4 linked regions of the Homo sapiens genome follow. Each later gene encodes a partner of the first gene's protein in a complex. Each region holds a gene or a part of one and is shown in the gene's direction. Other genes may lie near its edges. The genes, in order: EXOSC7, EXOSC3, EXOSC5 and EXOSC6.

Region 1 (9,266 bases):
TTCAATCAAGTACAGCATAAAATTACGACTTCCTTTTGTTCATTTAATTTTTTTCAGAGTGGAAAAAGCACTAGCAAAATATATCAAGTATAATGAAGTGGTAAATGAAAGAAGTCTTAAAAACCCCAATTTAAACATGGTCATTTTTCAATATTCAAATATTTGCATATCCAGGATCCATTCTGAGTTTAAAAACCTGGCAAGATACTCACTTGAGGGCAAAATGAGACTTAGGTTAACTGACTTGTTCAAAGTCATAAAGCAAGTTAATAGCAAAGCCCAAATCTTTGGACTAAGATGCCCGGAAGTCTTTCTACCATAGATTGTTATCTTCCTAAACAACCTGTCTTTCTAGATTCTCTGCTACTATTTCTTGGTTTAGAAACATACACTTCACATACTGAAGACTTTACTGCAACAGGACTGTGGCCAGAACTGTACTTGTCTCATTAGGCTTACCTTGCTAAGGTAAGAAAGTGATCTCACTCAAAGGCATTGCATCTCCACTGACCTTGAATAGGAAATACATATTCATATCTTGCCAAGAGTTCAAGTGCCAAGTCAATACATACTACGAAGTCTATGGTTTGGAGGAGACTATGAAATGATGACATTTCCCATGCATTCCAAATGTATTAGGATGTATGACTGAATTAAGTGGGACATGCACCTGGAGCCTTCTCACCTTCACAGTTGACAGCCATGAATGAACTGGCCATTTGTCTCTGGAAATCTGCTTCCGAGGAGGAAAGCAAATGATTTTTTAAAATGCAAAACAGGAAGGAACTAAAGGCAGCATGGCATGAGCCTCATTTTTTCCCCAACAGGTCAACACTGAGACATCACCCCTCCACTTCTACTTGAGACTTTGTTACTTTCCATGGCTATCAGGGTGTGTGTGTTTAAATATTTCTACATTTGGTAAGCAGGATCTGTTACCCCCTTTTCTCAAATATGCCCTAATGAGACATAGGAAACATGCTGTCACTCTCCCAAAATGAAACACACATGAAGACTGTATAACTTTTCCTCTAATTAAGAGTAAGCTTTACCCATGTATTACTAGCAATTTTTCTATCACTGTAATCTCAAGTTACAATGTCTAGAAGACAGATGAAGACCTGCTGGCCAGACTATGACAGTATTCTTTACAGATATTCTTCATTTCTATCATTATTTTATTACTTATTTTATTATTTTTTAGCGATGGGGTCTATGTTGCCCAGGCTGGACTCAAACTCCGGGGCTTAAGGGATCCTCCCACCTCATTCTTTTAAGACAAGGTACAGGCGGGACAAATGCAAAGTGTTTAAAGGAAACAGATCTACAGGCAAAACGGTAACTGACTTTGTACATTTCAAGGGTGCTGGGCTAATGGTGAAAATGCAAAGGAAAAGGCCTAAAACATGGCCATGTCTGCTTAGGACTGGGAACAGAAGGTTTCCTGCTGGGCTTTTAAGAGCTCTCTATGGCTGGGCATGGTGGCTCATGCCCATAATCACAGCACTTTGGGAGGCCAAGGCAGGCAGATCTCTTGAGGCCAGGAGTTCGAGACCAGCCTGACCAACATGGCCAAACCCAGTCTCTACCAAAAATACAAAAATTAGCCGGGAGTGGTGGCACACACTTGTAATCCCAGCTACTCGGGAGGCTGAGGCACAAGAATTGCTTGAACCCAGGAGGCGGAGGTTGCGGTGAGCAGAGATTGTGCCACCGCACTCCAGCCTAGACAACAGAGCAAGACTCTGTCTCCAAAAAAGCTCTCTGCAACATCAGCACCACAGACTCAGCATTGCCCTGAAGCTCTTTTGTAACTGGCTTTTATTGGTTTAATTAACCAAGGATGGGTGGGACAGAGTTACTCCATCTCTGTCATGTTATTGTTGCCGGCTTGTGGCTAGCAGCAGCTCTTTACCTTTTGTATTTGATACCTGGCCTGCACAATTAGCACCTTATTATAGGCTGGCCTCTCTTCTAATTGCCACGTCTCAATTGAGCACTTTATTTTATTGTCTTGTTCATGCAGTAGTTCGAGGTCCTGGGCTCCCCCACTATAATAAATTCTAAACTACTTTTAGGCAGGTGTTGTGTTTTGAGTTTATCTCTTTATGCCCATAAGAACACCAGGGACTCACAGGCATGCAAACACACTGTCTGGAGTTTCTAGATATCTGAGTATGGCATACGGTTGGAATCTGGGTCTCCATGCATGCTACTCAACCCTAGTACCAGATCTATCAGCCATCTTTGCCATTGAGGGCTCTCTCCTTAGCTACTTGGAGTTAAGCTCTTATTCTGCTCATATATAACCTTTTACCTTGTTTAAAATATTGGGTTGCAACAGACACAGCAACATCCCATCAGCACCACATTCCATGTTCCTCTAGAAAAATGATTCAAGGGATATGAGTTTATGCTTGAACAGACTTCTTGCTTTTGGAATTAAGATTAACTATATAGTTCATAGGACAGTTACCAACGCCATAACAAAATTGGGATTTCCTTCACCAAATAATCTGGTGAATGTAATAAAACCTGGGGGGAGGCTGTGTAAGGTGATGGTTAGGAGTATGGGCAGGAGAGCTAGACTGCCTGGTCTCAAGTCCTGGTTCTGCCATTTACCAATGATGTAACCTGTGACCCTGGTTAAGGCATTTAACCTCTCTGTGCCTCATTTCCCAATCTGTAAAATAGGGATAAGAATACTTGCATCACAGGGCTGTTGCAAGGATTGAATCAGTTATTTTTTATTTTTATTTTTTTTTGAGATGGAGTTTCGCTCTTGTTGCCCAGGCTGGAGTGCAATGGCGTGATCTCAGCTCACTAAAACCTCCGCCTCCTGGGTTCAAGCGATTCTCCTGCCTCAGCCTCCCGAGTAGCTGGGATTGCAGGCATGCGCCACCATGCCCGGCTGATTTTGTATTTTTAGTAAAGATGGGGTTTCTCCATGTTGGTCAGGCTGGTCTCAAACTCCCAACCTCAGGTGATCCACCGGCCTCGGCCTCCCAAAGTGCTGGGATTACAGATGTCAGCCACCGCACCTAGCCTGGTTAATCTTTATAAAGTGCTTAGAACAATGCTTGGCATACAATAAGCACTATGTAAATTAGTGTTGAAAATTAGAGTATAAGGTTTTAGAATACACAAACCTACAGAATAGTATGCCCCAATTCATTTATTCATTCAATAAATGAATCTAATAGTGATGGAAAAACAAGACGGTTTAATACTGTGCCATCCTTGACTTCTTGATTTTTTTGGTTATCATATGTTCTTTGAATTACTTCAATACACTAAAAAAGAACTCAGAATTTATGGATTTTAAAGACGTCCAATGCACTATTACAGCAAAGGTGATAAAAATGTTCTGGCAGCATTTAAGCCGAATGATTAGTGAAGACTGTCATTGTTTTAGTAGACAATTTAAAAAGGAACATTCTACTGTTTACATCTCTCTTACCTACTTAGCCTAATATATAAGACATCGTTCATAACATTATTTAGCAAATACTGCAGACCCTTGTCCAGTATGGAATTCCCGTCAATTGTGAGGGGGGGACAGTTCAAATACATGTTCTATATTTTAAGACATTGGAAAATCTTTATATAAAGATAACTCCATGGTATCTGAACTCAGGCTTTTCTTCCTGTGTCTTTCTGATCTGTCCATTTGCTGTCACCTCTTAAATCCTCAGTCTCCTCAGATATCCTAGCTTCTAAAATCCCACTTCCAGGGTCTCTCCTTTCTGAGCAATCTCTAGCACATCTAGAAAATATCATTTATAACATCAGCAATCTCATGTTATCTTATCACAACAGAGCTCCTCACATAAAACCCAGCCGTCCAACCACACACAAACACATCTAAGTGCCACAACAGGTGGGGCACCTGTGCCTTCATTAGGGAGGAAATCCTTCCGGCTTCACCTCTTTCAGTTTCCCTGGAAGGCAAAGTCCAACCCTGCAAGCTGTCTTCCTTTTAGGTGCCCCTGTGGAGAATTACGTAGAGACATAAGAAACATCTAATGTCCAGTCTACGAAGAACTGATCATCAATTTTGGAGCTCAGCAGTTTAATGCTTAAGAATGTGAGCAAGCACTTCCTCTCTATAACCTTATCAGACGACCTCCCAATCCCACTGTGCCCACTGATGCGACCATCATAGCTCTAACCACCATGATCTGTGGTTATGTTGGCCCTGGAGCCTTCATCTGCCCAGGGAACTTCTCTGGGCATAGTATGTTTTACTTGTCTTGTGTTCTAAAGGTAGCACAAAGCCTATCTATAGTAGGCTCCCAATAGTTATCTGAAACTGTATTTGAACCCACTATCTGATAAATACCATTTTTTTTTTTTTTTGGCTGAGGGTCCTCAAAAATGGAACATCAGGAAAGTCATCAGAATTGCTTTAACCTGCCCTCCTTGCTTCAACTAATTTGGGTTAACTTTCTCCCATTTATCCACACGGCTCCTTTAAAACTTGCACCATACTTTGTCAGCCCCGCCTTAATGAGTTCCTTTGGTGACCCCAGCTTCACCTTGCAGATATCCTCTCCGGGTATCCAATGCCCATACTCCCACTCGGCCATCGCAAGGGGTTGGGGTTGGCTTTTTTTCGGGCAACTGCTCACAGCTCCCAGTAATCACTTCCATCAAGCCGGGGTTTCCAGTTCCCGCTAGGAAGCGTTGGGGACGTCCGGGCACTGCGCACCTCGCCAGTGCCGGTTACCAAGCGCCTCCTCCCCCGTCTGTGGGACAACGCTCTGGTAAGCACCCGAGGCAAGAGGTCCCAGCAAGGTAATGGGACAGCGTTCGGTCACAGAGAGTGAGCGAGCCAGCGAGAGATATTCCTGGGTGGAGGGGTGGGGACGCCTTAGGACTAGTGTCCCCCATTCCCGGACCCTTCCCACCAAGAACTACCTAGGGAGGGCTGCATCGCCTCTCCAGCCATCCTAGGGACTAGAGAAATGGAGGGGAGAAGAGCAGGGAAACAGCACCCCCGGGCCAATCACGACGTCCGCCCCTCCTTAGTCGGGGTCTCTCTCTCTCTCTCTCTCTCTCTCACACACACACACACACACACACACACACACACGCTCCTAAGTCAACTCCAGCTCTGAGCAACTACGCCGCACGCCTCTCCCACTGGGAGTCCCCCGGCCCGTGAGGCTCGCCTCACCCCAGCTTCTTCACCCCTACCCCAGTTTCCCTTCCCAACTGACCGTGAAGCCGGAGGCAGTTCCCCAGTCCCAGACCCCGGTGGGGCTCCCGCCGCCGCCGCCGCTGCCTTCCCCTGCAGTCCCCAACCCGGGACCCGGCCTCGGGCTTCGGCGATGGCTCCTCGGAACGAGGCGCCGCGGCTCTCTGGACTCGGCCAGACACCGGGCGGCGCGCAGGAGAAGCCCATCGAGCTCTCCCGGCAGTGGCGGCGGCCGCGGCTGCAGGAGCGGCCGCCGCGCAGGTTGATGACGCGCTGACGCGGGGCGGGGGGGGGTGGGACGTGGGGGCGCGGTCCAGAGGAGGGGACGCGCGCAGATGACGTGCGGCTCGTGGGGCAGCTCGGCAGCATGGCGTCCGTGACGCTGAGCGAGGCGGAGAAGGTGTACATCGTGCATGGCGTCCAGGTAGCTACAGCAGCGGCGTTGGGTCGGCCGCCGGGTTCAGCCTGGCCCTGCGGGTCGCGGCCTGCCCTGGGTTTGCCAGTGAGGAGGCAGCCGAGCTGCGGCGACTCTCCGTTTACCTTGTGATTAAACGGTTCTGCTGCCGGCGTTTGCAATTCAGAGCTGGCAACGTGGACGTTTTTAGGACTGTTAGCGCATTTGCAGTTTTGCGGGTCTATAAGATTCCGAACCCGGGCAGGAAGCTTGGGCAGTCTCGGAGGCCTTTTCTTAGTGAGAGAGCATCGGCCCCAGGGCCATCCATTCGGCGTTCGCGCACAGATCTTGTCCGAGCCTCAGTTTTCTCTTCGAGGAAATGGGAGTTTGGAGGTGGGCTTCTGGCCTGCTTTTCCTCACCTCGTGGTTAGGAGGGCGCATGCGAGGTGAACGCACTTTGAAAATACAAATTGCCGTACAAATAAAGGGGGAAGGGTTTTTAAAAAGCGGCTAGGACGCCTGTAATCCCAGCACTTTGGGAGGCCGAGGCGGGCGGATCACGAGGTCAAGAGACCGTCCTGACCAACATGGTGAAACCCCGTCTCTGCTAAAAATACAAAAAAATTTAGCTGGGCGTGGTGGCGCACGCCTGTAGTCCCAGCTACTCGGGAGACTGAGGCAGGAGAATCGCTTGAACCCGGGAGGCGGAGGTTGCAGTGAGCCGAGTCTCAAAAAAAAAGCGGCTAGGCAGCCGATAGCCTAAGTGCTGTTTCCATTTTGCCAATGAAGAACTAAGATCCCTAGGCAGCTATAACCTAATGTCCTCTGTGTTCTATATTAAATCCCTGGTTATGACCACTCCAGAACGAGGGTTGAAAAATGTTGGACCTGGTAACGAGCTACCCTGTATCCTCCTCCGGCTGTGTCTCCACTTGTTAACCTACGGTGTGGTCCTCCTATCAGAGTTCTTCATCCCATCCTTGGCAGAGTTCTGGCGACAGCTCCTACCTCTTTTCCTCATGCCTTTCCTCTGTCAGTACCAACTGCAAAGTCAGTGGTCCCGTGATGTAGCCATCGGATTGAAGCGGCCAGCTATCATTGAAGTCCCACAACGTGAGTTAAGGACATGTCCATTTAAAAATCGTGACCTGCCGTTATCTTCTGGGCCCTTTATATATGAAGAAATGCCAATATTTAGCATATTATGCCTGGATAATAAAGTCAGAACTCACAGTTGCATATTTTAGTTATAATTCAGGATTAACAACAGTGGGACATATGTGTGTATTACAGGGTAACATGTATGTTATTTGTGTGTGAGGGGGCATAAAAATGCCCAAAAGCAGTTAGATATGTCTTTCCCTGCTATATTTTTGTATACACTTTGTTCAGGTGATTTTTATCCTCAAAGTATTTTTTTAGGGACACATTACGGATAACCGTTTTCCTCTAAATTTAAAAACCTTTGGTCTTCTTTGTTACCGGAGCTTACCATGATGTAGTGACTCTGTCATGTGTCCTATTTTCTCTCAACATTTCATCCCTGAAAGTGGCACTGAGGCATGGATATATCTGTAACCTCAAGGTTAGAGCTTTCTCCCCAGCACCCTTAATTCCCACGGCAGTTCATTAGCTATCCAGCAGCAGAGTCCCACCATGGTCATTAGTTAATTTTATTTACCAACATATATCTAGCTCCTGGCATGTTATGTGGGAAACAGCAGGGATGCCAAAACATGGTTGTGAAATAAATGAAAGATAGGAGGGAGACAAACAGAGAGTAAAAGTGAATAAAATAAAAACAAAGGTAATGTAAGATCTATGCCAAGGAAGTGGTATAGTTAGTGGAGGTTGAAGTTAAAGTATACCAGGGGCCGGGCATTGTGGCTCACGCCTGTAATCCCAGCACTTTGAAAGGCTGAGATGGGAGGATTGCTTGAGCCTAGGAGTTTGAGACCAGCTTGGGCAACACAGTGAGAGCCCATCTCTAAAGAAATAATTTTTTTTTAATAAATAAAAAGAATTCCAGGGACTTGTAATGCTCTGAAGGCTTCCCTAAGGAGGTGGAATTGCTCCCCTAAATCCATGTCAAGGATTCCTCCTCTGTATCTTCAGGACTCAGTATTCATTCATTCAACACAGAACTGAGCTAGACTCAGGGGCTAGGAAGGAACCTGTCCTTATATAGCTCTCATGCTAGAAGGAAGATGCAGAAACTATAAATGTACTTGAGTGTTTATATATAAAATTGTACTGAATGCTATGAAGGAAAAAACGGACACGATCTAGACTGGGAGGTCAGAGGAGGCTTCCCTAAGGAAATAGCATTTGAACTGAGTTCTCAGCATGACTGAGAATTAAGTAGGCACCAGTGTTCCAGAAGGAAGGGGTGGTGAGTCTGTAAATCCTCAGGTGGAGGACATGTGGAGCCCAAGGGGTGGGCTGGGGGAAATGGTGGAAGATCAGCTTGCAGAGGTGGCCAGAAGCACGATCCTAGAGGTCTTAGAGGTTCAGTCATTCGCTCATCATGGATCTTGGAAGGCAATAGCCTGTTGACTTGTCTGTATGGGGGACCCTTAAGGCATAGCCAGTGTCTAGCACTTGGTAGGTTCTTAGTAGCATTGAATGGGTGATGTAAGCTTTAAAGGGGGAATGAGTTGGATGGTGTTTTTATTTTTTAAATTAAACCTCCCTCTCACCAGTACCATGGACATATTTGGGCACAGTTGTTGGTAAATGCTCAGCTCTGTGTATCACAGAGCCATGCAGAGTAATGGGCTTCAAATCAACGTCTTCATAAGGGCTTATTAATGTTGGCCCAAAATATGCCATATGTATAGAGGAGCAAAACACAATTTACACCATCCAAATAAAGGTCAGGATGCAGGTGAATGAGCCTACCATGGAATCTCAACTGATTCAGTTCTGAAATCTCCTAAACTTTTGTTGCGTTGGTTATAGAGTGCCGGCAGTGCACCTTAAGCAGTGCCTGCCTGAACTCCTGTTGCTTGTATAGTCCTAGTCATTTTGTGTTTTACTTTTCACCTTTGGTCCAGTAACGTCCATTTCAGCTTCTGATGTCACTTTCCCTTCAGCCTTTGGTTCTTTTACTATTTCAGGGAATATTTCATCTTGTTTTGGTGATAGTTAGAAGCAGTTGAAATTAACCTCACGATGTGTTGAGGATTCAGTTGCTAGTAATGGTAACCAACACATCGGCTCAAGCAAAACAGTATGGATTACAAGGCTGCAAGTGTTTCTCCAGGAATCCTAATCTCTGCTGGTTTTTTTTTTCCCCCTCTTTGCTTTGTTTTTGTCTCCCTACAGATTGGTTTTCTATTTCTTGGGCCAGTGGTAGAAAAAATGTGGTTCCTTCCCAGTTCCTCTGTAAAAGAGACCATTCCTTCTCGTTCAGTTCTGAACTCATGTTTCCAAGAGAAAGAAACTCTAGTTCTTTTAGGGGGTTGAGGGAAAGGATGGACAGAATAATTAGGCTCAAACATGGCCACTAGAGGATGTGTCACACTTGGGAGAAGTCAGTTTGTGAGAAGGGAGGGTGGATCATTTTAGTTATTGGCAGAAAATGGAACCCTCTTCAGGTAGTTCAGGAGACTTTTATGATGGGACTCTAGAGCAGTATGGGGGGGGTTTCAGGGAACCAATAAGAGATGT
Region 2 (4,336 bases), on another chromosome or scaffold:
GCTGTGGACGAGCCAATGGAATGGGTGTCATTGGACAGGATGGTCTGCTTTTTAAAGTGACTCTGGGCTTAATTAGAAAGTAAGTCCTGATGTCTGCTGGCTTGACTGCTTTTTATAATTATACATTCTTGGAAAGTTGGTTAATCTTCAGGATTCAGATTCTTTGTAACGTTTGAATTTCTCCTCAGAGTTAGAAATCAGTATCCATTTTAACACATTTGGAAACTCATGAATTTAATCCTATCTTCTTGGAAACATATCAAATTCAGATGTGTTTGGCTGTGTAGTTTCTGGTGGGCTGATACTTCATGCCTTAAGCTCTTACTCTGTATTCATATCTTCCTTCCCAGGCCTGTTGCTTATTTGACTTAGCCCAAATGTGAAAACTGGCCTTTCCCCTGTTCTGAGTCACTTGAATACAGATGCAGTCTGCAGTTGTATAAAATTATCAATTTTTTCTAATTATGGGGGTCACACGCAGCTTAGATTGTGATGTTCAAGGTTATGTAGACATTCACAGAAGGCTTCTGACACTTGGTCATACTGAGGCATACTGAGGTTCATGCTGAGGCAGATTCTCTTTTTGGTGTTTAGAACTTTACCCACCCAAAGCTGTGCCATATTCAGGGGCTTTACTCCTAGAGCCAGTGAAGTTGAGAGCTATCTTGTATGCCTCTCCTTACTACATATCCTAAAGATCTGGAGAATTAAGTTTGGACATCAGAGAAGCATGTTTTTAACCAAGAAGCATGTTATTAACCAAGCACCACCCTTATGGTTTGAAAGAGCCAATGTTCCTCTCCAAGTACTGAATTTAACACAAGAGAATAATATGGCCAGGAAAATAAGTTTAAAGTGTCTTAACACTGTAGATAAAAAAAGTTATGATTCCCAGTCTAGAATTAAAGTGCTCTGACCATCTAGGGGAATGACTTTTACAAAGTTGGTAACCTAGGGAGTTTGATTTCTTTGTAAGGCATAGCCCACCTCTGTGATTTCTAGTATACCTTTGAACAGTGTAAAGTTCCTTCTTGGAAGAAAGGAGGCAGCAAATGTCATCACGTGCCTTGTTCTTGTTGAACAGCTATGGAGAACTGCTCAGAAAAGGAATCACATTCTAAAGGAGACTCCGGACACACCTTTGCCACTTCATTAAATTTCATTTTCTTTTCTCTTCCCACCAGGCTATTAGCTCCAGATTGTGAAATCATACAGGAAGTGGGAAAACTCTATCCACTGGAGATAGTATTTGGAATGAATGGAAGAATATGGGTTAAGGCAAAAACCATCCAGCAGACTTTAATTTTGGCAAACATTTTAGAAGCTTGTGAACACATGACGTCAGATCAAAGAAAACAGATCTTCTCCAGATTGGCAGAAAGTTGATATAGGTGGACTTTTTTACAGGTCAGTTGAGGCAAAAAACTATGGGTTTTTTCAGGTGAACCTCCCCCATTTAAATACTCAGAAGATAAGGTGTGAATGTATGTATTATTAGAGTCCGAAAGTATTTTTATAAGTTACTGGTTTTCACCCACGCTTTTGTGGGAGAGAAAATCATTGCAAAATCATTTTTTTTGTTCGGTACAATAAAGTTTACTAAAAAACAGTATTAGGGTTTATTTGGAGTTAACTCCCTTAGTAATTGCTACAGCTTCCATAATTAACTGGAGGTCAGCAGTAAAATAATTTTGTGATTATAACAGTAAGCCAGGTTCACCAGAGGAAATGTGGAATACCTAAGTATAAAGCAGCAAAGAAATGTCACCTGTAGTCCCATTATTCAGCGGGTGAGTATATAACAACGAAATACTTTTTCATTTACCAAGTATTGTGTTTTGCATGGATTAACTCCTTTATTCTAACTGCAGAAGACACTTATCCTCATAATTGAAACTGAGGCACAGAATTTAACTTGGCCTACATTCTCTATATTCATCAAATTGAAATTATAGTTATTATAGCTTATATGCCACTTTGTAATATACTTTTGTCTACTTCAAACAGCATGATACATTTCACAACTTTAGTCACATATTTCATGTTACAGGATATTTTTGAGTTTTATCATTATATAAATAACACTATGAGGATTTCTGAATCCAAATCTGGCCAAGTCTTATTTTGCTAAAATCATTTCCTAGGAGCTAAGCATAGAAAACTCTTCTATGCTATTTAGTATATTAACCAAAACCTTTAGAGGTAAAGAGACTGCCAGGTGATCCACATCAGTGATTCTTGGTTTCTAGACCTCTGAGAATATGTGAGATACAGATCCCCTGAAGCCTATCCATAGAAAGTCCTTTTTGGATCAAAGAGATTATAGAACTCTATTTGTTGATAAAGACCAAGGAGCTTCGTGTGTTTCTAATGTTTTCTAAGGACTGGATGGTTTTTAGTTCAATAGCTTTTAGGGGTACAAGTGGTTTTGGATTACACGGATGAATTGTATAGTGGTGAAGTCTGAGATTTTGGTGTACCAGTCACCTGAGTACTATATATTGTACCCAGTATGTAGTTTATCCTTCCCCCTTCCCTGTTCCGGGTCTCCAGTATCTGTTATACCACTCTGTGTGCTTACCTGTAGCTTAGCTCCCACTTAAAGTGGGAACATTTGGTATTTGGTTTTCCATTCCTGAGTTACTTCACTAAGAATAATAGCTTCCAATACTATCCAAGTTGCTGCAAAAGACATTTTTTATGGCTAATATTCCATGGGATATATATACCACACTTTATCCATTCATTGGTTGATGGGTACTTAGGTTGGTCCCATATCTTTTATTATGAACTGTCTAGCCAGTTTTTAAATAGAAAAGTACTGATTAGGTGAACAGTTCCTTAGGAATTAAATTGTGAAGGGGAGGGGACACAGCAGAGAAGTAATCTGTTGGTTCTTTTGAGATATTGAATACATGTCCCAAATTTGCTAGCTGCTTAACTAGCAAGTTAACCCAAACTGTCAGAGTAACTGAAGCAAATATGTCCAACTGGGACATAAGGAACATGAGATTTGTGTAATAAGTAGGTTATCTAACGTGTTCATGTGTCTAACACTTTCTAGCTATTTTCAAGACAGACTTAATCAATACTGTGTTTGCTTTCCAATTTAATCTGTTACAAATACATATGAAGAATCTAGTTGGTACAGGCTCAGGGAGGATAGAAAGATAGGTACACAGATTTGTCCTGTTAGGATCCTACCATTAGGAAGGATTAGGAAGAGAAGCCCTCCATGCCCATACTCTGCAAGGGAGAACAAGGTAAGAGCCACAGGAGGGAACAAAATGCTATGGGGACTCAGTAGGGATAGGTCAGAACAGGCTGGATCCTGCAAAGCTTATTACTGAGCTGGGCAACAACGAGCATGATCAGACAAGGCTGGAGAAAGTCATACAATTTTATGATGCCAGTTTAGTGAATATTAAACTCTTGATGTAACCATTTAAACAATTTCAAGAGGTCTCTCACAAATAGATGTACAAAAGTTGAATTAGCACGTCCAAAGCCATGTGGTTTTGAGGCTAATTCCTTGTTACATAATTTTTTTTTTTTTTCCCCTCGAGACAAGAGTCTGGCTCTGTCGCCCAGGCTGGATCTTGGCTCACTACAACCTCCGCCGCCCGGGTTCAGGCGATTCTCCTGCCTCAGCCTCCTGAGTAGCTGAGACTACAGGCACGCACCACCATGCCCAGCTAATTTTTGTATTTTTAGTAGAGACGAGGTTTCACCATATTAGCCAGGCTGGTCTGGAACTCCTGACCTTGTAATCCACTCACCTCAGCCTCCCAAAGTGCTGGGATTACAGGCGTGAGCCACTGCACCCACCACATTAACTTTTTATTACTTAACATATCTGAGCACTTCCTGTGAGCCAGGCACTATGGGAGATTAAAAAGCATTAAATGTGGTCCCTGACATTATTGTGAAGCTCTGAGAAGATGTCATGCAAAGACACTTGCCTATGTGCCACTGCCACCCTCTGCCCTGCTCTTTGGGTCAAGGTACCTCCAAGCGCCTCACTCCTGCAGCTGCATTTTTTTTTATTTATTTTTTTTTTGAGATGGAGTCTTGCTCTGTCACCCAGGCTGGAGTGCACTGGTGAAATCTCGGCTCACTGCAACCTTCGCCTCCCGAGTTCAAGTGATTCTCCTGCCTCAGCCTCCCAAGTAGCTGGGACTACAGGTATGCGCCACCACACCTGGCTAATTTTTGTATTTTCAGTAGAGAAGGGTTTCACCATGTTGGCCAGGCTGGTCGTGAACTCCTGACCTCAGGTGATCTGCCCACTTCGGTCTACCAAAGTGTTGGCATTACGGCGTGAGCACCTGGCCAC
Region 3 (9,078 bases), on another chromosome or scaffold:
AAATTAGAGTTGGATTTGTAAACCATTCAGTGCCTCAAGATGTGAAAAAGGAGGCCAGGTTTCTTAACACACTAGCAAGTAAGAGATGGACCCATACACTTAGAAGACTGTAATGACCATCTCCATTCATCCCACAATACACACTGACATGGTTTGTCTCTGTCCCCACTCAAATCTCATCTTGAATTATAGCTCCCATAATTCCCACATGTTGTGGGAAGGAGCCAGTGGGAGGTAATTGAATTATGGGGGTGGATCTTTCACGTGCTGTTCTCATTATACTGAATAAGTCTCACGAGATCTGATGGTTTTATAAAGGGGAGTTCCCCTGCAAGCACTCTGTCTGCCTGCCACCATGTAAGATGTGACTTTGCTCCTCATTTGCCTTCCGCCATGTTTGTGAGGCTTCCCCAGCCATGTGGAACTGTGAGTCCATTAAGCCTCTTTTTCTTTATAAATTACCCAGTCTTGGGTGTGTTTTTATTAGCAGCCTGAAAACGGACTAATACATACACTGAGTACCTACCACTTGGAGATACTGCACAGGGCACTGGAACCCCCAGACAGGCTGCCCCTGAAGAGCTGGGTCACAGAAATAGTCACCGATAATTAGCACAGAGCGAGCTCCAGGGGCTTCCTGACTTCCAACAGGGTAGGGACTCTATTCACCCCACTAGCTAGGGTCAGAGAGGTGAAATGACTTAGCCAAGCCCAGGCCTGGGGTAGTGGCTGAGAAACTGACTCACAATTCCTTGACAATCTGAGTTTCCTTCCTCCTCCTTTCCCTGAGCACTAAAACGTCTGCTATGATAACAGAGACAGGAAGGGAGGTGAAAATCAGGCAAACACATCTGCAGGGCAGCAGGGTATTCAATGAAGGAGTGGGCAGAGCAGGGGCAAGAAGTCGGGGACAAGTAAAGCAGCCCCACTCCTCCTTCTAATCCAATCTTCCCCAGTGAACCCAGTAATCCAATCTGTCTACAATATGCAGCCTCTCAACCTTTCCCTGACTATTTCTTCATCTCCACCTGGATAAAACTGCATCATCTTAGCCAGGCATGGTGGCTCACACCTGTAATCCCAGCACTCTGGGAGGCCGAGGTGGGTGGGTCGCCTGAGGTCGGGAGTTCAAGACCAGCCTGATCAACATGGAGAAACCCTGTCTCTACTAAAAATACAAAATTAGCCAGGCATGGTGGTGCATGCCTGTAATCCCAGCTACTCGGGAGGCTGAGGCAGGAGAATCGCTTGAACCCAGGAAGAGGAGGTTGTGGTGAGCCAAGATCATGCCATTGCACTCCAGCCTAGGCAATGAGAGCAAAACTCCACCTCGAAAAAACAAAAAACAAAACAAAACAAAAACCCTGCACCATCTAATGTGGCAGCCACCAACCACTTGTGGCTATCTTATTTTGAGACAGAGGGCTGCTCTGTCACCTAGGCTGGGGTATAGTGGTGCGATCTCGGCTCACTGCAATCTCCGCCTCCCAGGTTCAAGCGATTCTTCTGCCTCAGCCTCCCAAGTAGCTGGGACTACAGGCACACGCCATTACGCCCAGCTAATTTTTTTGTATTTTTAGTAGAGATGGGGTTTCACCATGTTGGCCAGGCTGGTCTTGAACTCCTGGCCTCAGGCAACCCGCCCACCTTGGCCTCTCAAAATGCTGGGATTACAGGCATGAGCCACCGCACCCAGCCCACTTGTGGCTACTTAAACTTAAACTCATGATAATTTAATAATATGGCCAGGCAAGGTGGCTCACGCTTGTCATCCTGCACTTTGGGAGGCTGAGGCAGGAAGATCGCTTGAGTCCAGGAGTTCAAGACCAGCCTGGAAAACATGGCAAAACCCCATCTCTACAAAGATTTAAAAATTAGCCAGGCGCAGCCAGGCACAGTGGCTTATGCCTGTAATCCCAGCACTTTGGGAGGCCGAGGCGGGCAGATCACCTTAGATCAGGAGTTCAAGACCAGCCTGGTCAACATGGTGAAACCCCATCTCTACTAAAAATACAAAAATTAACTGGGTATGGTGGCGCACGCCAGTAGTCCCAGCTATTTGGGAGGCTGAGGCAGGAGAATCACTTGAACCTGGGAAGTGGAGGTTGCAGTGAGCCGAGATCGTGCCACTGCACTCCAGCTTGGGTGACAGAGCAAGACTCCGTCTCAAAAAAAAAAAAAAAAATTAAAAATTAGCCAGGCGTAGTAGCACGTGCCTGTGGTCCCAGCTACTTAGGAGGTGGAGGTGGGGGGATTGCTTGAGCCCAGGAGGTTGAGGCTGCAGTGAGCCATGATCACACCACTGCACTCACTCCAGCCTGGGTGACAGAGTGAGACCTTGTCTCAAAAAAAGAAAAGGCTAGGCGCAGTGGCTCATGCTTTTGGAGGCCAAGACAGGCGGAACTTGAGGCCAGAAGTTCGAGACCAGCCTGGACAACATGGTGAAACCTCGTCCCTACCAAAAATACAAAAATTAGCCAGGCGTGATAGTGCATGCCTGTAATCCCAGCTACTAGGGAGGCTGAGGCAGGAGAATTGCTTGAACTCGGCAGGCAGAGATTGCAGTAAGTCAAGATCATGCTGCTGCACTCCAGCCTAGGCGAGAGAGTGAAACTCTGTCTCAAAAAAGAAAAAAAAAGAAAAAGGAAAGAGAGGTACAGAAAGAAAGAGAGAGAGAAAAGAGAAGAGAAAAGGAAAGGAAAGGAAAGGGAAAAAGAAAAGAAAAGAAAAAGGAGAGGGGAGGAGAGGAGAGGAGAAGGAGAGGAAAGAAAGAAGAAGAGAGAAAGAACAGGTGGGAGAAATAAAGGGGAAAAAACAATAACTCTTAAGATAATACAAATTTAAATATATATAAATAAAAAGTAGGGACTTCTTCCCTCCCCACTCCCCACCAAAAATGAAGTAGGGGAAGCAAGAGGAAAGGTAATCAAGAGATTGAGACAGGAGAGAAAGATTTAATCAGCCATAAATGACCTTTCCCTAGCCTGCCCCAGTCCTGCCCACCTCCTGCCCCACTTGCCCAGCCAATGGGCCCCTGGGACTGAGATCAGCTGTGGAGGATATGAACTGCTCAAAAAAAAAAAAAAAAAAAAAAGTGAAAAGGTCTCCAGCCCAAAGGCAAGAGACTGCCCTACCCACACCTTGCTCCTGCAGCCCTTCTGTATTTACCTGTTTCAAGTGACTCCGTTCCTAGATACCTACTACGTCCTACTCCTGGCCCATCTTCTTCACCCTCCTCCCGTTTGTTCCCCTACCCAGAGCTTCTTTCTACAGATTCCATCTTCCCCTCCTTATGGATTGGGGATCAGAGGATCAGACTCAACCTCACAATATCTTTTCAGATTTTTTTCCCCAGGGCCTCACCAATCCAGGCCTTCCCAAGGTCACCCCTTTCTTCTCCCCATCTCCAAGGTTAGTTTCTGTCCCTTCCCTCCACCCTCACTATCAACATTCCTATTGCCCTTAGGATGTGCCAGGTCCAGTCCTTAGCATTTTACATATTGATTTTTCACAGCCCTATGAGGTGGCCACTGTTAATATTTTAGAGAGGAAAATTAGCTCCATAGATCCAGAGAAGTGCAGTCCGTTGGCCAAGGCTACACAAGTGGAAAGCGGCAGAGCAAGGACATGCATCCACCCATGTAACCACTACTCTCCTATCTGTCAACTGTAGTTCAAAGCTCTTCTGCAACCCATTGCCTCTCCCCGTCTAAAGATAGGCTTCCACCTAGGTTTTTTGCAGTGTAATCTTGCCCTTAGCAGCATCCACCTGAAGGGATTGTGACCCTTTTGACAAGAAACAAAGCCTTCTCAAGTGTTTCTAAGAAATGTGGGCAAAGTGCCCTGTCTGTACCTCTCTCCCTCCTTTTTTCCCCTCATTAATTCAACAAATATTAATCGTCTCCTCTGTACAGTGTCCAGAACACACGAATTCTCTGTCTTGATATTCGATCAAGAGACACAGGAATCAAACAAATTTTTTACACAATTCATTTTAAAATCAGAATTGTGGCAAAGGAGCAAAGAAATACAAGGCCCTATGCAGCCTGTGACAGGGACCTGTTCTCTTCTTTCTTCTTCTTGAAGAGGGATCTTTGCCCAGAAGAAAGTCCCTCCCTTACAAAGTCAGTTTCATTCTCCAAACCCTGAGGGAGAAGGTCTTGCGGTCTTCCCCTGTTCCTCCAAGGAGCCTCCCCTGAATACCAGTGGCAGCTAATAAGGAACCCCCATCTCTCTCTTCAAGTCGTCTCCCTCAGGGCCCACAAAGAAGTTGCAAACGGGTTTTTTCCTCTCCTAAAGAAGTGGAAGTTCTTTTCGTCTCCTAAGGAAGTGGCAGATCTTCCCTTCGGTGTCTTCTCCAAGGAGTCTCCCACTCTTTTTCCCTTTTGTGACAGCCCTTCCTTCATATCCTTCAGGGACCCCACACTCTGAAGATAGCCTTTACATCCCTAATCCCCTTTGGGAAAACCGCCTGGGGCCCAGGTACTCACAGATCTAGCCAGTCCCCGAGCCCCAGGCTGCCGCAGCAGCAGGAGGGCAGCCTGGCTCAAACCACGGTTTAGCCGCCAGACCCTCGCTGCAGCGATCGCTACCGCCATCTTGGCTAACAACCACTCAGCGGTCCGGCACTCACGTAGGCTAGATTCGGGGCTGCCTCTTTATGTGCCTGACGCAAACTCCAGCACCATCTGACAAGAAAACCATCTTCTTCCCGTTCTGTGGTAGATAGAATGCACAGAGATTTGGAGAAAAAAAAATCTATCTACCCAAAATTTTCTCCAATCGCCTCATTGTAGTTACTCCTGTAACAGGCAAAGAAGAGGGCAACCTGACCAGGGCCTCAGGGATTTAGGGCCCGGGGGCCCAGAGTAAAGCGGATCAATGCCAAGGCCTGCCTTCTGTTCCCAAATGTCCAATGGCGTTGCCAGAGTTAGGAGGTGGGACTGGGCGGAGCCAGATTGTTGGTAAACGCTAAGCCACGTGCGGACGCCCAGGAGGATGGCCCAGCCCGGCGCGTGCGCACTGGTTACGCAGCCTGTTTGCGGCGCGCGCTGCCAGGCGGAAGTGACAACTGCAGCCGCACGTGGGCTCGGCGCGATGGAGGAGGAGACGCATACTGACGCCAAAATCCGTGCTGAAAATGGAACAGGGTCCAGCCCTCGGGGTCCTGGCTGCAGCCTCCGGCACTTTGCCTGCGAACAGAACCTGCTGTCGCGGCCAGATGGCTCTGCTTCCTTCCTGCAAGGTAAGAACTTCACCCAGGTCTTTCTTTTGGAGAGGGACTACCGTGTACTGTGCAACCGAGTGCCCACCTCCTCACGATACCAGCTGGTAAATGTCACTCCTGCGTTGATGCATGATTTCTTGTCCGATTGAATACTACTAAATACGCAGGGATACACACATCTCTCCCTCACGACTAGAAAGGAGAAGATAGTTCCATCTTTGTAACTATCTCTGAGAATGAGAGGAGGGGCAGACTGTCCGCCCAAGAATTGATATTTCAGAATAGGGAAAATCACCTCGCCAGGGTAAATATCCCCCTTAACTCGATTCCTCCTCCACCCTCCCACCCCCACCCCCCACACACACACCCTCTAGGTCCTTGCATCCCGGACTGAAGCAAACCTGTCTATTTGCATACTGTGGACTGTGGCGGATCTTTCACCCACGTAAATACTCCTCAAATTGAAGATAATGTCATTGCGCTGGGTTGAGAAATACATCCCCACCGCTACCTCACTGCATCTCTCCACACAAGTAAATATCCCTAAGATTAGGGCAAGTCAAAAAAAAAAAAAAAAAAAAGATTAGGGCAAGTCTTACCTATAGAGCAAATATCCCCTTTTCCTAGCTAAATAACTCTCAGAAGTAGATTAACTCCAAGAATATTTCTCTTTAACGTTTGAGACGGGAGGCCGGGGGCGGTGGCTCACGCCTGTAATCCCCACACTTTGGGAGGCCAAGACCTGTGGCTCACCTGAGGTCAGGAGTTCGAGACCAGCCTGGCCAACATGGCGAAACCCTGTCTCTACTAAAAATACAAAAACTAGCCAGGCATGGTGGCGGGCGCCTGTAATCCCAGCTACTCGGGAGGCTGAGGCAGGACAATCACTTGAACCTGGGAGGCAGAAGTTGCAGTGGGCCGAGATCGTGCCATTGTACTCCAGCGTGAGCGACAAAGCAAGACTCTGTCTCAAAAAAAAAAAAAATTGAGACAGCGTCTCACGATGTCACCCAGGTTGGTCTTGAACTCCTGGGCTCAAGCAATCCTCCTCCCAAAGTGCTCATACAGGTATGAGCCACCACGCCCAGCCCCAATACATTTTAACAAAATTTGGCTGCTGTGTTGATTGTGGGGAGTATGGGGGAAAACAGGGAGGTGATGGTGGCTCCAGCCAGAGCAGGAGTAGTGGAGGTGATGAGATTCTGGATGTAGTTTGAAAGTAATACGGACAAAACTTACGTATAGTTTGGTTTGAGTGCGAGGAAAAAGATTCAGGCATAACTAAGGTTTCTGCCCAGATCTGTACAAGTCTGGAAATCAGAAGAGAGACCCAAGCTGGACATAGGCAATTTGGAACTCTCTGGCTATATAGATGGTATTTCAGGCTATTGCCTGAACGAAGTGAGTGTAGATGGAAAAGAGAAGAGGTCCCAGGACCAAGCCCTAGGCCTTCCAACTTGAGCAGTCAGAGACATGTGACAAGCTAGCAAAGGAGACTCAGAAGGAACGCCCAGAGAGTTAGGGGGAAACCAGGAGATGGTGGTGACCTGGGGCCAAGAAAAGAGCATGTCTGAGATGTGAGGGCTGACCAGCTGTTTCAGCCTTACTGACAGCCGGGTCATGGGAGGGTTGATCATTTGGAGGTCAGTGGTGACGATGTTGAGCTGCCGCAATGGAGTGGTGGGGTCACAGAAAAGGAAGAAGAGGCAGCTGTTCAGGAGTTCTGCTGTAAGAGGATCAGATAAGTGGGGCAGGAGTTGTAGATTGTTGTGGGGTCAACAGGGGAGAGAATTGCTGGAGCCACGTCTTCAAGAAGGTGAGAGGGGAGAGACTCTTGTGCTCGGGCAAAACACAGGCAGTTCATCTGGAGCCAGAGGCAAGTTCTGTTTTGGTAACTTCTCCAGTCCTCAGGGCAGTTTCTCCTGGAACTAAGCATACCTTCCGTGTAAGGGCAAATTGGGCTTCCCAGGAAATACGGCCTTAACCAAGGACCTTCCCAGGCCCTCCCTCAGGCTTAGCGCTTATGCTGAATTGAGATACCTAAAGTTTCTTCGAACGTAAGAATTAAGAAGAGGCCGGGTGCAGTTGCTCACAGCGGTAATCCCAGCACTTTGGGAGGCCTCTGAGGTCAGGAGTTCTTTTTTTTTTTTTCTTTTTTTTTTTTTGAGATGGAGTCTCGCCCTGTCGCCCAGGCTGGAGTGCAGTGAAGTGATCGTGGCTCACTGCACCCTCCACCTCCCGGGTTCAAGCAATTCTTCTGCCTCAGCCTCCTGAGTAGCTGGGACCACAGGTGCGTGCCACCGCGCCCGGCTAATTTTTGTGGTTTTTAGTAGAGACGGGGTTTCACCATGTTGGCCAGGCTGATCTTGAACTCCTGACCCTGTGATCCACCTGCCTCAGCCTCCCACAGTGCTGGGATTACAGGCGTGAGCCACCTCGCTTGGTTGAGGTCAGGAGTTCTGAGACCAGATTGGCCAACATGGTGAAAACCCATCTCTACTAAAAATACAAAAATTAGTCGGATGTGGTAGCACGCACCTGTAATCTCAGCTACTCTGGAGGTTGAGGTACAAGAATCACTTGAGCCTGGGAGGCGGAGGTTGCAGTGAACTGAGATTGCGCCACTGCACTCCAGCCTCCTGGGTGACAGAGGGAAACTCTGTCCCAAAAAAGAAAATAGAGACAGGAGTCTTCCTATGCTGCTCAGGCTGGTCTCAAACTCCTGGCCTCAAGCAGTCCTCCCACCTGGGCCTCCATAGTGCTGGGATTACAGGTGTGAGCCACCATGCCTGGCCTAAAATGTATTTTTTTTTTTTTATTGAGACTAAGCCTTGCTGTTATTGTCCAGGCTGGAGTGCAATGGTGTGATCTCGGCTCACTGCAACCTCCGCCTCCCCGGTTCCAGCAATTCTCCTGCGTCGGCCTCCCAAGTAGCTGAGATTACAGGCACCCACCACTATGCCCAGCTAATTTTTGTATCTTTAGTAGAGATAGGGTTTCACCATGTTGACTAGGATGGTCTCAAACTCCTGACCTCAGGTGATCCACCCACCTCAGCCTCCCAAAGTGCTGGGATTACAGCAGACAGTACTAGAAGCCAGGCTGTTTATTTCTTAGGTTTTACCTCCTGTACCCCGTTCATAGCTTCTGGGGAAATAAGGAATCAGGATTCATTCCAGATATTATCCCTTTCTCAGGTGTCCAGACTGATGCAAAATTTGGGGGCCAGTGCCTAAGGGAAGAGCTGGGCTGGGGAAGCTTTGGAAAGAGAAGTTGAGAGCAGCTGCAGTAAGAGGGAGGATGGTTAGCTTTCAGGAAGAACTTCCTGTTAAAAGTTACTAATACCAGCCGGGCACAGTGGCTCACGCCTGTAATCCCAGCGCTTTGGGAGGCGGGCAGATCATGAGGTCAGGAAGTTCGAGACCAGCCTGACCAACATGGTGAAACCCAGTCTCTACTAAAAATAAAAAAATTAGCCAGGTGTGGTGGCGCGCGCCTGTAATCCCAGCTACTCAGTAGGCTGAGGCAGGAGAACTGCTTGAACCCGGGAGGCAGAGGTTGCGGTGAGCCGAGATTACGCCACTGCACTCCAGCCTGGGCGACAGAGCAAGACTCCATCTCATTAAAAAAAAAAAAATTACTAATATCAGGGCCAGGCGTGGTAGCTCACGCCTGTAATCCTAGCACCTTGGGATTACAGTTGCCCAGGAGTTCGAAACCCGCCTGAGCAACATGGCAAAATCCCCTCTCTACTAAAAATATAAAAATTAGTCAGGCATGGTGGCACATGCCTGTAGTTCCAGCTACTTGGGAGGCTGAGGCGGGAGGATCACTTGAGCCCAGAAGGTCAA
Region 4 (8,780 bases), on another chromosome or scaffold:
TTTTTTTTTGAGACGGAGTTTCATTGCCCAGGCTGGAGTGCAATGGCGCAATCTTGGCTAACTGCAACCTCCACCTCCAGGGTTCAAGCGAGTCTCCTGCCTCAGCCTCCTGAGTAGCTGGGACTACAGGCACACACCACCACGCCCAGCTAATTTTTTGTATTTTTAGTAGAGATGGGGTTTCACCCTGTTAGCCAGGATGGTCTCCATCTTCTGACCTCGTGAGCCACCCACCTCAGCCTCCCAAAGTGCTGGGATTACAGGTGTGAGCCACCGTGCCTGGCCTAATTTTGTATTTTTAGTAGAGAGGGGGTTTCTCCACGTTGGTCAGGCTGGTCTTGAACTCCTGATCTCAGGTGACCCACCCGCCTCAGCCTCCCAAAGTGCTGAGATTACAGGTGTGAGCCACCACGCCCGGCTGAAAAGAACATTCTTAATGTCATGGTTGAGACCCTCCAGGGTCTCCTGCAGGCCTCTGGCAGGCAGGGAGCAAGTAGGATGTGCAGAGAGTAGGATAGGGGCCTGGGGGATTGAGTTCAAGGCTTTTCTGCCCAGCTGAATTGGGCCTTCAAACGAGTCCCACTTTGCCTGATTACCTGTTTGCTCATACCCTTTAGACTACAGGAAACAGCTTTCAAAAACTTTATACCAAGGGTTGGGTATGTTGCCTCATGCCTTTAATCCCAGCACTTAGGGAGGCTGAGGCAGGCAGATCACTTGAGGTCAGGAGTTCAAGACCAGCCTGTGCAACATGGTGAAAACCTGTCTGTACTAAAAATACAAAAATTAGGAGTGGTGGCGGGCACCTGTATCCAAGCTACTTGGGTGGCTGAGGCAAGAGAATCATTTGAAACTGGGAGGCAGAGGTTGTGGTGAGCCAAGATCACACCATTGCACTCCAGCCTGAACAACAGAACAGGACTCTGTCTCAAAACAAACAAACAAAAAAAACTATACTATCTTCAAAGAATGAGGATGAATTAATGAACATTTGAGGTTCTCTGAACTGAGAAATAAAGCCTGTTTAAGGGGTTGTGGTAAGATTTTAAAAGTAATCCTCCAAAATTGTCACCTAGTGAGCAGAATACAAAAATGGAGCTTAAGTTCCACTACAAGACCAAAACTGTCACGTAGAGCCTAAGGGTAAGACTGTATTGGATATTAGGGACCACAAAGCACTTTCATGTTTACCTCATTTGATTTTCACAGCAACTGTGTGGGGAGAATCATCCCCATTTGAGAACTGAGAACACTCAGGCTCAGCGAGCTGGTGTCCCGCTTGGTGTCAGAATACTCTCAAGCCCAGGCTTTCCCTGACTGTCAACCCATTCCTGCTTCTCTTGTCCGCTAGTGTGACCCCCCAGCCAAGGGCTGCCAGGGCCTCTTTCACTATGGACTTTGTGTTCTGCCATTCAGGCACCTGCGGAACTCGAGTCATGCAGGAGCTTTTGTGATCGTGACGGAAGAAGCCATTGCCAAGGGTATCCGGAGGATTGTGGCTGTCACAGGTGCCGAGGCCCAGAAGGTGAGCAGGTCAGGCTGGTTTGTGGCTTATCTGAAGAAGGCAAGAGGAGCCCAGTCTGCGAATCCATAGAGCAAACACTGCTCTGCGTGGCTGCTGCAGTCAGAGTGAAAGTACAGGCTGGGCCACTCCCCCTGCCCCAGTGTCCTACCCCTGAGTGGCAGAAGAAACCTGCCACCACACAAGATCTCCTAGCTTTCCTATGTTTAGTCTTTTAAAATATATGTGAATCAGGCCGGACGCAGTGGCTCACGCCTGTAATCCCAGCACTTTGGGAGGCCGAGGCGGGTGGATCACTAGGTCAAGAGTTCGAGACCAGCCTGACCAACATACTGAAACCCTGTCTCTACTAAAAATACAAAAATTAGCTGGGTGTAGTGGCGCGCGTCTGTAATCCCAGCTACTTGGGAGGCTGGGGCAGGAGAATCACTTGAACCTGGGAGGCAGAGGTTGCAGTGAGCCGAGATCGCACCACTGCGTTCCAGCTTGGGTGACGGGGCGAGACTCCGTCTCCAAAAAAAAAAAAAAAAAAAAAATGTGAATCTGGCCATCTACCCCCTCCTGTCTCCATGTGGAGGAGGGTAAGACATAGATTCGCTGTGGCATCGGGGCCCCCAGCGCTGATCCATGTACTCCTAGGGGCGTGCTTAGTCTGAGGCCGTGCAGTAGAGGATGGGTGCTCTTTCATGGGAACTGGTGTGTCTGACTTGTGCTAAAGCCCCAGGGGTGGCCACTTCCTGGGGGAAGGGGCTCCTGATTCTCGAGCTTGATCACCCCTGAGTCTGAGTTGGGTGCAGCCTTTGCCAATGGGCCTGTGAGCACTGTGCTCCTTGCTGGGGCCTGGGGCTGCCAGCACCTACTCCCCACAGACACTTTTGGGGTGTTGGGGTATGTTGCTGCAAGGCCTACCGCCGGGGCTTCCGCAGCTGCTCAGACACAGGATAGTGAGTCTGACTCAGACCTCCTGCTTGGGGTTGACCCGGTGTCCCCTCCCAGGCCCTCAGGAAAGCAGAGAGCTTGAAGAAATGTCTCTCTGTCATGGAAGCCAAAGTGAAGGCTCAGACTGCTCCAAACAAGGATGTGCAGAGGGAGATCGCTGACCTTGGAGAGGTAGGGGCGGCTTCCCTCCCTCCGTCCTCAGGGCCTGGTGCATGAAACATGCCCCGTCTTCAGGAAATCATCTGTAGTCAGTCAGGCCCTGGTTCTTGGTGGAATGGGCCTTTGGGCTGACTTCTGTTGTCCTGTAGCCTTGTAGCAGGGACCCCATGGATCCTGTCCTTGGACCCTGGACATTCCCTGCTGCTCCCAGTGCTGCTAGCAGGAGAGCTCTTCCCAAGCATGTATGGGCACTGGGGTGGAGGGATTTGGGGAATGGGCTAAGGCTGGCCCCTGCTTCCAAGCCTGCCTGGTATTTATTTGCATTTCAAGCTGCCAGGAAGCTTATCACAGGCTGTTCCCAGCCTGGTAAGGACCGGGCCTGATTTGGGAGCCCAGCTTTCTGCTGCTCCTTTCTCTCTAGCCCTGCTTGTTTCACCTGCCACAGCTGCTCCTAAAGGGACTGGTCTCAAAGCTTTCCTTGCTTTCCTTTCCAGGACACTAGTCAGGGAGGACTTGGGTTCGGGTGGGGTGGGCTGGACCCTGACATCCCAGCAAGTTGTGGCCCAGATTGAGATGGTCGTCTATTGGTTCCAGGCCCTGGCCACTGCAGTCATCCCCCAGTGGCAGAAGGATGAATTGCGGGAGACTCTCAAATCCCTAAAGAAGGTCATGGATGACTTGGACCGAGCCAGCAAAGCCGATGTCCAGAAACGAGTGAGTCCTGGCAGCACCAGTGGCCAGAGTGTTTCCTAGGCAAAGGCTGGCAGAACAGCCAGGGGTTCGGGGCCTGGGCTTTTGGTCTGAGCTGCTGTTCTGGACTTTTTTCTTGCAGGTGTTAGAGAAGACGAAGCAGTTCATCGACAGCAACCCCAACCAGCCTCTTGTCATCCTGGAGATGGAGAGCGGCGCCTCAGCCAAGGCAACCCAGGGGCCAGGGTCCCCTCCCCTAGGGCTCATCAGCTCTCTGGTGGCTGACATGTGGCCTCTGTGGCTCTGAGCGAAGTGGTTGCCTAAGGGCCCACGGTCTGGGATTGAGATTGGGAGGAGCAGCAGCTCCCTGCATGTGGGAGGCATACCTGGGCCAGGGTAGGGGCAGGGCCCGGCGCTGGGGTCCTCCCCACAGGCCCTGGGCACAGCCCCTGCTCTGGGAAGGGGTAGGGGTGGGTGGCAGGCCTTCTGAGGGCTGCAAATGCTCACACTAGTGAGGGTCCCTGCTCCAGCACCGTGGCCTGAGCCAGGTCCTCCCCACAGGCCCTGAATGAAGCCTTGAAGCTCTTCAAGATGCACTCCCCTCAGACTTCTGCCATGCTCTTCACGGTGGACAATGAGGCTGGCAAGATCACGTGCCTGTGTCAAGTTCCCCAGGTCAGCACCACCTCGCACCAGTGGGAAGTGTTAGGTCTTAAGGTTGTTGGCTGAGGCCTGTGTGTGTACAGCCTGCATTCGAAACAGCCTTTCTGCCCACCGGTTGGTTACCTTTGCCAGTACCCCTTACCCAGGCCTTCTTATTGGTGAAGACATCTGGTTGATACCTGGCTTTGCCACTCTGTCCTGTCCTGGCAGTGGCCATGGCCGCCCCCTGTACCAGCCGTAAAGTCTGTCTCGGCCTCCAGCAGTATCACCCAGGGCAAGGAGTGGGTGATGGCTCCTCCATCCTTTCTTTCCCTGCATTCCTCCCTCAATCCCATCTTCTGTGCTGACTCCCCCTTCCCTTCCTGTCTTCTAGAATGCAGCCAATCGGGGCTTAAAAGCCAGCGAGTGGGTGCAGCAGGTGTCAGGCTTGATGGACGGTAAAGGTGGTGGCAAGGATGTGTCTGCACAGGCCACAGGCAAGAACGTTGGCTGCCTGCAGGAGGCGCTGCAGCTGGCCACTTCCTTCGCCCAGCTGCGCCTCGGGGATGTAAAGAACTGAGTGGGGAAGGAGGAGGCTCCCACTGGATCCATCCGTCCAGCCAAGAGCTCTTCATCTGCTACAAGAACATTTGAATCTTGGGACCTTTAAAGAGCCCCTCCTAACCCAGCAGTAACTGGAACACACTTGGGAGCAGTCCTATGTCTCAGTGCCCCTTAAATTTCTGCCCTGAGCCCTCCACGTCAGTGCCATCGGTCTAGAACCACTAACCCCGCATTGCTGTTGATCGTCACGCTCGCATCTATAGATAACGGCTCTCCAGACCTGAGCTTTCCGCGTCAGCAAGTAGGAATCGTTTTTGCTGCAGAGAATAAAAGGACCACGTGCAATACTTAATGCCGCATGATCTCTATCCCTCTTCCCAATAGGGGCTGGCTCTTTTGACAGCCTTTGGCGTCTGTAGAATAAATGCTGTGGCTCCTGCTGGCTGCTGTGGTGTTCACCTAGTCCAGCCCCAGAACCCAAAATTTTGGGAACAGCCCCTAGGGCTGCCTCAAACGTCTGTGGAGGTGGAGGCCAAATAGGTGGGGTGACTTGGAGCAAGGCGTTCATAATTCAGTAGATGAGGGGTGGAGGTAGTTGGAAGCAGAGAAGCCTTTCTTGGAGCTGCTCTCCCCCCTCCCTTCCAGCAAGATGGATGGATCCGGCTACCCTGCACAACTGGGACCGGGCCGTTCTCCCTCCGGGCCTCCAGGGGCGCTGTAGTGCCTCCCGCCGCTCTCTCGACAGCCCATGCGCAGCCGCGCGTCTTTAAACAACGGAAGAACCAGTGGATGCGGCAGGGCGTTGGGCGGAAGGGGTTCGCACGCCAAGAACCGCCATGCCTGGGGATCACCGCCGCATCCGCGGCCCTGAAGAATCGCAGCCGCCGCAGCTGTACGCGGCCGACGAGGAGGAGGCGCCCGGCACCCGCGACCCAACGCGGCTACGGCCCGTGTACGCGCGCGCCGGGCTGCTGAGCCAGGCCAAGGGCTCGGCCTACCTGGAGGCGGGAGGCACCAAGGTGCTGTGTGCCGTGTCGGGCCCGCGACAGGCCGAGGGCGGCGAGCGCGGCGGCGGCCCGGCCGGAGCAGGCGGCGAGGCCCCGGCCGCGCTGCGCGGTCGCCTGCTCTGCGACTTCCGCCGCGCACCCTTCGCGGGCCGCCGGCGCCGCGCTCCCCCGGGCGGCTGCGAGGAGCGTGAGCTGGCGCTGGCGCTGCAGGAGGCGCTGGAGCCGGCTGTGCGCCTGGGCCGCTACCCGCGCGCGCAGCTCGAGGTGTCGGCGCTGCTGCTGGAGGACGGTGGCTCGGCCCTGGCCGCCGCGCTCACCGCCGCCGCGCTCGCCCTGGCCGACGCGGGCGTGGAGATGTACGACCTGGTGGTGGGCTGCGGCCTCAGCCTCGCGCCGGGGCCCGCGCCCACCTGGCTCCTGGACCCCACGCGGCTCGAGGAAGAGCGCGCCGCCGCCGGCCTCACCGTGGCGCTCATGCCTGTGCTGAATCAGGTGGCCGGGCTGCTGGGCAGCGGCGAGGGCGGCCTGACAGAGAGCTGGGCGGAGGCCGTACGCCTGGGCCTCGAGGGCTGCCAGCGCCTCTACCCCGTGCTGCAGCAGAGCCTGGTGCGGGCCGCCCGCCGCAGGGGCGCCGCCGCCCAGCCCTGAACCAGAAGCCTGAGCAACTACGGACGCAAGCCGAGGACCGTGCTGCCGCCGTCCACGAAAAGACCCGCGCCATCGGCCTCCAGTTTGCGTCGAGAATTCCTGGAAGGGCCCTGATATGACTGTGGTTGGACTGACCTGACTGCCAGATGGTGGGACTTGGTCTGGAGCAGGGACTACTTGGAATGATAAAGGCAAAACTCAACAGCCCCTGGAGCTGCGCTTGTGGTGGAGCTGGACCCTGAAATTACCTGGACCTTTTTTTTAGAGACAGGGTTTCTTTCTGCAGTCTCAAACTCCTAGCCTTGATTGATCCTCCTGCCTTGGCCTCCCAAAGTGCTGGGACTACAGGTGCATGCAACCACACCTGGCTAATTTTCTTTTCTTCTTTCTTTCTTTTTTTTTTTTTTTTTTTTTTGATGGAGTCTTGTTCTGTTGCCCAGGCTGGAGTGCAATGGTGCAATCTTGGCTCACTGCAACCTCTGCCTCCTGGGTTCAATCCATTCTCCTGCCTCAGCCTCCCAAGTAGCTGGGATTACAGGCACATGCCTCCATACCGGGCTAATTTTTGTATTTTTAGTAGAGATGGGGTTTCGCCATGTGGGCCAGGCTGTTCTCGAATGCCTGACCTCAGGTGATCCACCCGCCTTGGCCTCCCAAAGTGCTGGAATTACAGGTGTGAGCCACTGTGCCCAGCTGAGTAAATTTCTTGATTGCACAGAATGTACGGTGATATTGGCGGACTTAAGGACATCGAATTGTTTATCAGGAATAAAGTATTATGTGTGTTTTCTGCGGCCCTGGATAATGCTGTAGCATTCAGGGTCGATTGAGTAAAAAAAATGTAGAGATGGTTTCCTGTTTGTTTTTGCTTCTAGTTTTCATTCATTTGCTATTTATTCTCTTCTGGCTTTGCTTGTGTATGCATATATATAAAACCATTATTATTATTATTATTATTTTTAGTTTCTAGTGGAAGGCTTTTATTTGGTTCTGTGAATAGTCATTTTGTTTCCTAAGAACTTCCAGCAAGTTGTATTCATTCCATTCATCTAGAATTCCTAGGCTGCCTTTGTCGGGCCTGCAGGTATTAATGGAGAATAGCAGCTTTTTATTTTTTTATATTTATTTTTTGAGACAGAGTCTCACTCTGTTGCCCAGGCTGGAGTGCAATGGCGCGATCTCAGCTCACTGCAACCTCCGCCTCAGAGGTTCAAGTGATTCTCCTGCCTCAGCCTCTGGAATAGCTGGGACTACAGGCACCTGCCACCACACCCAGCTAACTTTTTGTATTTTTAGAGAAGATGGGGTTTCATCATGTTGGCCAAGCTGGTCTCAAACTCCTGATCTCAGTGATCCATCTGCCTCAGCCTCCCAAAGTTATAAGATTTTTTTCCTCTGGTTTTTAGTAAATGTTTTTTTTGAGATTGCTTAGCACCAGAATGATTTGCAAATTTGAAAATAGGAACTCCACTAGGAATGCCGGATAGAAGAGTGCTTCACATTTGTAGAGGGAGACAAGAACTAAATATCACGACGTCTTTCTGAGCCTTTTGGTTTGCTAACGTGCCCCAAATTCTTATTCCAAACGGTATAAGATAATTATGTGTAAATGAATACCAGCTCTACTTAGTTTTATTTCATATTTGTGTATCTGAATATATTAAAATATCTTTTTTTTTTTTTTGATGCGGAGTCTTGCTCTGTTGTCCAGCCTGGAGTGCAGTGGCATGATCTCGGCTCACTGCAACCTCTGCCTCCCAGGTTCAAGCGATTCTCCTGCCTCAGCCTCCTAAGTAGCTGGTATTACAGGAGTGTGCCATTAGCCTGGCTAATTTTTGTATTTTTAGTAGAGATGGATTTTCATTGTGTTGGCCATGCTGGTCTTGAACTCCTGACCTCAAGTGATCCTCCTGCCTTGGCCTCCCAAAGTACTGTGATTACTATCATGAGCCACCACACCTGGCCTAAAAGATCATTGATTTAGTTTTGAGTAAGATTTTAAGTGATTAAATTATGGTATTGTTGTGTCTGGAATATCTGATATTAGGGTTTTTTTTTTTTTTTTTTACAGTTTTTGATATGCTTTATTTTGGGTATGTAGTTTACAAAATATAAAGGAAATATAAGGAGTGTTCTCTTTTTTTTTTAAATAAAAAGTGTATTTTTAACTGGGCATGGTGGCTCACTCCTGTAACCCCAGCACTGTGGGAGGCTGAGGCTGGTGAATCGCCTGAGTCCAGGAGTTTGAGACCAGCCTGGGCAACAAGGTGAAACCCTGTTTCTATCAAAAAAAAAAAAAAAAAAAAAAAAGGAAAAAAAATAAGTCAGGCATGGTGGTATGCACCTGTAGTCCCAGCTACTTGAAGGCTGAGGCAGGAGGATCGCTTGTGCCTGGGAGGTTGAAGCTACAGTGAGCTATGGTCAAGCTACTGCACTCCATTATAGGCAACCCTATCTCAAAAAAGCAAAGCAAAACAAAACATTTTTCCCCTTGATTATAGAGGTTTGAGAAAAATTTGAGGGAAGATTCAGAAAATTACCTGTAACTGAACAGAATGCCACCAGCTTGGGCTTATTCTGCATGCATAATTATGAACATTTTCCCAGCT

Evidence for each region.
Region 2: EXOSC7 (region 1) and EXOSC3 share a complex: the UniProt entries of both Homo sapiens proteins name them as parts of the RNA exosome core complex.
Region 3: EXOSC7 (region 1) and EXOSC5 share a complex: the UniProt entries of both Homo sapiens proteins name them as parts of the RNA exosome core complex.
Region 4: EXOSC7 (region 1) and EXOSC6 share a complex: the UniProt entries of both Homo sapiens proteins name them as parts of the RNA exosome core complex.

What each region holds. Positions count from the first base shown.
Region 1 is NC_000003.12:44,970,711-44,979,976, forward strand, and holds the start of EXOSC7 (exosome complex component RRP42), read left to right. Parts: upstream 1-5,533; 5' UTR 5,534-5,567; coding exon 5,568-5,624; intron 5,625-9,266. UniProt on the Homo sapiens protein: Non-catalytic component of the RNA exosome complex which has 3'->5' exoribonuclease activity and participates in a multitude of cellular RNA processing and degradation events.
Region 2 is NC_000009.12:37,777,729-37,782,064, reverse strand, and holds the end of EXOSC3 (exosome complex component RRP40), read left to right. Parts: coding exon 1-79; intron 80-1,184; coding exon 1,185-1,386; 3' UTR 1,387-2,351; downstream 2,352-4,336. UniProt on the Homo sapiens protein: Non-catalytic component of the RNA exosome complex which has 3'->5' exoribonuclease activity and participates in a multitude of cellular RNA processing and degradation events.
Region 3 is NC_000019.10:41,393,348-41,402,425, reverse strand, and holds the start of EXOSC5 (exosome complex component RRP46), read left to right. Parts: upstream 1-5,066; 5' UTR 5,067-5,097; coding exon 5,098-5,245; intron 5,246-9,078. Other genes in the region: BCKDHA (2-oxoisovalerate dehydrogenase subunit alpha, mitochondrial isoform 1 precursor), read right to left, coding at 4,491-4,598. UniProt on the Homo sapiens protein: Non-catalytic component of the RNA exosome complex which has 3'->5' exoribonuclease activity and participates in a multitude of cellular RNA processing and degradation events.
Region 4 is NC_000016.10:70,248,473-70,257,252, reverse strand, and holds the start of EXOSC6 (exosome complex component MTR3), read left to right. Parts: upstream 1-5,312; 5' UTR 5,313-5,352; coding exon 5,353-6,171; 3' UTR 6,172-8,780. Other genes in the region: AARS1 (alanine--tRNA ligase, cytoplasmic), read left to right, coding at 1,417-1,525, 2,519-2,632, 3,215-3,334, 3,453-3,539, 3,872-3,985, 4,347-4,532. UniProt on the Homo sapiens protein: Non-catalytic component of the RNA exosome complex which has 3'->5' exoribonuclease activity and participates in a multitude of cellular RNA processing and degradation events.